2 linked regions of the Homo sapiens genome follow. The protein of the gene in region 2 purifies or fractionates together with the protein of the main gene of each other region. This does not show direct contact. Each region holds a gene or a part of one and is shown on either strand. Other genes may lie near its edges.

Region 1 (3,500 bases), on a different chromosome or scaffold from region 2:
ATCTTCTTTCACCTTTACTTTAACCATTGGAATACAATACAATCAATCAAGATATGTTAACTGATTACCTACTATGGGCAAGGCACTTATCATATATGTGGGCTAGTCAACAAAAGCTTCCTGCAAGAGGTGGGGCTTGAAACGGACCTTGAAGATCAGACAGAATATAGATACATTTGGGAGAGAAAGCTACATACCACAGTACTGGACTTCTCCAATCTTTCTAGCAATAAATTCTTTTTTAATCACGGATCAGGTTTTTTGTCAATTTAAAATGGAAGTAAGAAATGGAAGTAATTGGTTTGGTTTTTGAATTTTTAAAAACCTACTTTTAAAAAGACTTTAATCATATTTAGAATTTTTCCAAGTATGGTCTTTCTACCCTGAAATAACTTTAGTCTAAGTATTGTACTCAGATATGGTTTTTCTACCTGGGCTCAGATCAGTAAACTAAAAAACTGGCAGTTACTTTTTATAGCACCTATTTTCCAAGTCATAGCTATCAAATTACTTTTCCTGACTCTAGTATGAAAAGGAAATACATGGCAAATGGGATCAGACAAGACTTGAAACCTTCCTGATATATGATAAATAATTTTTAACACAAACTCAAGATTTTATTGTCTTCATAATAAAACAAAAGATGACACTTAGAAATGGATCACTTGGACCTTTCTCTTCTTATCTCTTCCCAGTTCAAAATGCTTGCATCTTTTAATGGCAGCATTCTCTTAGATTTGCAGTTGGGATCAGTGCACTCAAGCCTTAGCACAATATTCTTTGTAGTTTTAGCTTTTTTCCGAAAAATTGGCTTAGTCTGCCCACCATATTCACTGCGCTGCCTGTCATAATGCTGCTTTCCCTGGGCATACAGAGAATCTTTGCCCTTCTTGTACTGTGTCGTTTTGTGGGGTTGGTGCTAGCCACACTTCTTTAAGTCTTGTGAGTTTTAGGAACATTCACCATGTTTTCGGGAGCACTATCGGTACGGAAAGAGATAAACGATTTTTACTGATCCTTCTGTCAGTCGGTCTTAGACCTTCAGAGCTTCTATTTTACTGCTTGAATTTCAAGTAGGCAATATTATATAAATGACAAATATGAATGGCCTTTGTTGTGGTGTTACATGTAGTAGAAACCTGTGGGTCCAACTCACAGTAGTAACATCTGCCTGTCCAGTCATCTCTACATACAATAGCATTATTTCCCTGACTTCATTTCTGTCTTTGTATTATCTCTGTAACTCCCCTGAGCTTCACTCAGCTTCTTGTCCCTCAGTCTCTCAGCATTAACAGTACATTCTCATTTGCTCTACTTCTTTATTGGTAGGTGAATCTCTAGATGAAATGTTGCATGTCTGTCTCATTGCCTTGCCAAGCAGCATATCGAGGATTAATGGACATTGTCCATTAATATCCTCACATTTACATGCAAATTTGTTCTGTTAAAAGACTAGTTGTTACAGTATGAAAGAAAAATTAGCCAATTTCTAAACAGAGGCAATAGTTTGTTGTTTAACACCACGGCCTCTGGAATAAAACTGCCTGGTTTCAAGCTTGGTTTTGTTCATTCAGTTTGAACAGATTAACCTCTTTGTATGCCTCAGTTTCCCTAACTGCAAACTGGATAATAGTAGTACCTTCTCATGGGGTAGTCATCAGGCTTGTATGGTTATATACCTGTAAACCTCTTAGAACTGTGTAGTGCATGGTAAATGTCAATAAATAGTGGCCACTGTTACCATCTTTTATACCTCTCCTCTTAAGAATAATTACTTGCTAATTTGGGCAAGTCTTACTACTTTGATTACAGGAAGCTATAATTGAAGAGTATTCAGTGAGTCTTGATTACTGAGATAAAATGGGAGATACGTAAGTTTAAAATACACTTGCAAAAGATTTGAACACTGACATTTATTCGTAAGCGTTTACTGATTAGTTTAAAGAAGACATCATGTTTTATGAAAAAGTAAAGGAAATCCTAGCCAATTCATTCATTGCTATCCTTGTCTAGATATTAGTTGACATTATCTTTGGTTTCAGTGGTGTTCAGTTTTCACTTTTTATTTTTACATTGAGCTCAACCCCACACCTTGCCATTAACGCTAATTCAACTCTGAATTTAAATACCCATATATGGTGGCTGTTGCACTGGACAATGCAGTTCTAAAGGCTTTCTAATAGCTTTCAATAAATTTATGCATAGTTCTTAATAGGTAATAATAACAGTATGTTACCCAAAGGTGTACTTGTATTTAAAGGAGACAGTGACTAAGATGAAAGAGGGAAATTCCTGAATGTAGAATTTCAAGTTATATGGAAAACCATGAAGGCTACTAATTTAGGGACCAGAAGGCCTTTCGAGTGCTTCTCAAATTAGACCATGTAAGTGGTCATCTATGCATAAGGTTAACCATAATTAAGAAGAATGACTGTTTCAAATGCCAGCTATATGTACAATGCTATAATACGCAACTATTTTAGGAAACTGCAGATGACACTGTCTTAGCCACAGCTGAGAAGAGGAATGAATAGCGAGGTTGAAGTAGAGATGCCAGGTAGGAGACAAAAACAGAATTAAAATTCCATCTTGTGTATATCTTATTTGAAATCCTGATTTCACTATGTCGTTTGTGCATTAAAATGTCAGAAGTGATTAGCAAAGAGTTGTTGCAGGTGAGCATTAGTATTAAATCTGCTAATGACTTGCCAAATGATGATGCAGCTTAACCACTTGGTTGTTTTCAATGTTGTTTGTCTAGAATGGAGATGACTAGACTGTCTTGCAGCAATGTTCTCAGTATATGAAAAAGCCTTCTTAAAATGTCTTGAAGAATGGCAGTGTTGGAGAGATCCATAACTTGAGCACACATTAGACTGGAGATTGATGATTTCTTTTTGAGGTTCAACAGTACAATATGTAGATGAAATGACATAGGTAGCCTAGAATGCTAACAAATAAATAATAAATGTTGCTTAGTGCAATAATTTAAAATTTTCAAAGTGCTTAATACCCATCTGTTTCACAACAATCAGGTGGGGTTATATATGATACTGACATAAAATATCACAATAATATATTATTAACTTCAATTTATGATGAAGTTTTCCTAGTTTGCTCATGGCTACCAGGCAGCTAGAGGAACATAATTTAGCAGTTCTTCCACTAGACAATACTAAGCTGTATCAGATGCTTTACTAAAATAATCTCAGTACACGTACATCATCCTTTTGTGAGGTATTCCATTGCTATGAAAGTGAGGTGGTAAGATGCTCCTTAATAATACTGGACAAATAGTCTGGAGCTTCAGGAGCCATTAAAACCTGGGAATTAATTTATCTTTCAGCAGGCTCAGCAAACTGCAACCTCCTTCAATCTCAGGCCTTGAACAATTTAATAAGAATAGCTGAGGATATTTAATGTTGGTTACTATAATCTCTCCCCCAAATTTTGTTTTAATTTTTGTGTTTCCCTTAGCTGGAGAGGGATGACGTTTCCTT
Region 2 (3,500 bases):
GAAGATGTGGCAGCTCATGCGGTCTGGAAATTGTTTGGGAGAACACTTGGGGACCCCTTACCCTGGCGAGGTGCCTGTGAACGTTGCCGCCTGTCTGTGGGAGACGCTGAAGCAGCTTCGGATGACCACACTTGCTAACCAGTTCCCGAGCTGGGGGCCACTGTGATGTTCTGAGAGTTTTTATTGTATGCTTGTGTCTTGGAATGGGGTGCCTCAAATGAGCCTTCTCAGTGACCTGAGGACTTTATGTGTGAGGTGACCTCTGACCTTCAGATACCCCAGGTTTCTGGAAGATGCCTTTCTCCATCATCCTGGATCGGGGCTTTCCCAGCTTTGCCTACACCTGGGAGGCGCGAGTAGCCAGATGAAGTCTTTCTGGTCTTGCTGGTCAGAGCCAGAAGGGCCAGTGCCCGGTCCAGGAGCCTCTCGCAGGCCTTGGGCTGCCCATCCAGGCGTGGCCTTTCCTTGGCCCTTTGGACGACGACGCCGCGTTTTCCTCTTGGTCTCGGCCTCCCTGCCCACCATGAGAGTGGACATGAGAGTGACCATCTCCAAGGAGGCAGCTGGGTCTTTTCCACTCCCCATGGCAGGGAGCCAGCTGTCTTCACGCCCTCACCCTAGTGAAGTGGCTGAATTGCCAGGATTGATCACAGCTCTGTTCTGTGTCTGATCACAGGACATACACCGTCCTGCAGAGTCTGCAGGCGGGTGGGAGGAGCCATTGAACAGACCTGGCGTCCTGGGAGGGACACGGAATTCTTCCCTTGAGAGTCTCATGCTATCTTGAGCGGCACTCTGTCACTTCCAAGATGTGTAGACGTCGTGCTGCGTGTAGGACAAGGACTGGAGCTCACTAATACGGACCTTACTTTCCAGGAGCGTTGGATTTGAGCAGCTCTGAGATGTGTCCTCCTGCAGGGCTGCTGTGCCTGGTGCCCTTTCTCTGGGTCCCTTACCCTCTGCCTCCCTTCCTGTTGGGTCCTCTTCATTCCCATTTCTGCTTCCCCAGGGCCAGGAGGGTGCTGGGCACTCGGTGGCCACCTCAATGACAGTGTGCACATTTACCTGAAGGGGCGAAGGGTTACCTTTATATTTCAGGTAATCTCTGTGTTTTGGGGAAATGGAAAGATGGTGTTGGGTTAGGGTTGATCAATGATCAGCGTTTCCCTGGGCTACACAAGGAGTGAGTGTTGGGTTGGTGGCCACTTTAGAAACCACAGGAAGGTCTCTGTCGTGGAAAGTCGTATTAAAGGAGTCAAGTTTTACGCCTGTAATCCCAGCACTTTGGGAGGCCGAGGCAGGTGGATCACGAGGTCAGGAGTTTAAGACCAGCCTGGCCAATATGGTGAAACCCGGTCTCTACTAAAAATACAAAAATTAGCTGGGTGTGGTGGCGGGCGCCTGTAATCCCAGCTGCTTGGGAGGCTGAGGCAGGAGAATCGCTTGAACCTGGGAGGCAGAGATCGCGCCAGTGTCCTCCAGCCTGGGTGACAGAGCAAGACTCCATCTCAAAAAGAAAAAAAGAAGTCAAGTTTCAATTTTAACTTGTGTTAGTGTGTGATCCTGTCTTTGTGTGCTGTGGAACTTGGTGCTGGTGGGACACAGGCTGCTCACCCCATCCCTTGAGCTTTGCGTTTATTCCTGGGATTCTGCATGTGAATGGGAGCCTGTGCTGTATCTGGGAGATGCTGACTGGGTTGCAGGCACGTCCGAGGGTCAGGGTGGGGCCGAGTGCAGCCTCCTCCTCCAGTGGGCCTGTGTGTGGAGTGGTGGCATTCTGGGTGTCCCTGAGGCCTGGTCGTTTCCATCTTCTTCCTGAGCCCACATGGAGATGACGAGGGGTTTCCTGCTGGTCTCTTGCAGAACAGGGTTGAGTGGTGTCCTCACGTTGATCTAGCTTCTGGGTCTCCCATTCTGCATGTGAGCAGGTTGATGGGCTGTTGTCTCTTCCACGGTTAGCCTCCCTTAGGCTGGGGCTCCTTCACCCCTCTTTTCTTAGAGACATTACTGCCCAGAGTGAGAACCCCTCACGTGGGGTGGCCGTGTGGTTCCAAGACAGGGTCCTGTGGAGGCCCTGTTAGCTTCCCCACTGGAGGCCTCCCTCACAGCAGGCTCCTGTCCCGGCATCTGCACTCCAGCCAGGCAGAGTCCTGCTCCCGTGCACACCACACCCTGTCTGTCTGTGCTGTGGGCCCTTGGCGGGGTTCTGGGTGTCTGGAGCCCCTTGACCTTGTTCCTCCTACAAGGTGACCTCGTCAGGAAGCCCCAGGATGAGACTGTCCCTGGCTCCTCCAAAGGTCACTTCAGACATGTGCACCCTTTGGAGAGGTCCCTGCTGTTTCTCAGAACTGCTGGGGATGGAGGCTGAGCCCGAGAGTGCTTGCTCCTCGCGCTCCCTTCTTGCTATGGTCTCCGGAGATGCCTCCCAGGCCACGAGCCCTCCTGGCGTGGTTTTACTGGGACCTGGCTTTGCAACAAAAATAGTTGTTTTAACCTCCCTAACCACTCCCATCCCTCTTTTGTTTTTCTCTATAACGTGTAGGGTTTCTTAGCTCTCCTGTATTGGTCTCACTCCACTGGAAGGAAGGCTCAGGAACGCAGGCTGTGTCTTCTCCCGGGTGTGGCTGGGGCGGGGGCTCAGGGAATGGCTGTGATGGCCCAGTGTCCAGGAGGCTCCGGGCCCCACCCCCCGCCTTGCTGCATGACCTTCACAGTGTCACTTACCGGCCCTGACTTGCCTGCGGGCACCACGCACACGGCATGAAGGTGCCCTGGCCCGGGGCACGGACACAGCCAGAGCCACCGCGCTCCTGGCTGTCATCACGTCGTTGGCTTTGCGATCTAAACCTGCTTGTTGTTTTGGTTTTTCTTTCTTTCTGTTTTCTTTCATTCTTTTTTTTTTTTTTTTTTTTGAGACAGAATCTCACTCTGTCACCCAGGCTGGAGTGCAGGGATGTGATCTCAGCTTACTGCGGTCCCCGACTCCTGGGCCGAAGTAATCTCCCCTCACCCTCCCTCTTCCCAAGTAGCTGGGACCAGACATGCGCCACCACATCCAGTTAATTTTTTTTTTTTTTTGGTAGAAATAGGGTCTCACTATGTTTCCCGAGCTGGTCTCCAACTCCTGGGCTCAAGTGATCCTCCTGCCTCAGCCTCCCAAAGCTCTGGAATTACAGGTGTGAGCCACGGTACCTGCCCCCAAACACTCCTGACTCTTCTTATCCTAACCGGGGTCATCTTACTCTCCTCACCGAAATCTGATGTCACCTGTATGGAGGAAAGGGTGGGCCTCATGGAGGGGCAGGCCAGGGACAAGGGGACTCCTGGGCCCCAGCTGAGCCCAGCCCGTTTCCCCTCAAGGGCTGTCTCCAGGAGGACACGTTCTGTAAGTGTAGTGTTCAGCAGAGGGTGAGTTTCTGGGTCGCCGAATCCAGGCACCCTTAGGAATGGGGGCCTAAGAGGGCCTTCTGACGTGGGTTCTCTGCTGTGATTGTGGGCAG

What was found.
Region 1: the proteins of PTDSS2 (region 2) and HTR2C purify together in Homo sapiens (co-immunoprecipitation; one large-scale study listed by IntAct). This does not show direct contact.

The regions. Positions count from the first base shown.
Region 1 is NC_000023.11:114,587,086-114,590,585, reverse strand, and holds part of HTR2C (5-hydroxytryptamine receptor 2C isoform a precursor), read right to left. Parts: intron 997-3,500; exon of another isoform or gene 601-996; intron 1-600. UniProt on the Homo sapiens protein: G-protein coupled receptor for 5-hydroxytryptamine (serotonin).
Region 2 is NC_000011.10:453,279-456,778, forward strand, and holds part of PTDSS2 (phosphatidylserine synthase 2), read left to right. Parts: intron 1-3,500. UniProt on the Homo sapiens protein: Catalyzes a base-exchange reaction in which the polar head group of phosphatidylethanolamine (PE) or phosphatidylcholine (PC) is replaced by L-serine. Catalyzes the conversion of phosphatatidylethanolamine and does not act on phosphatidylcholine.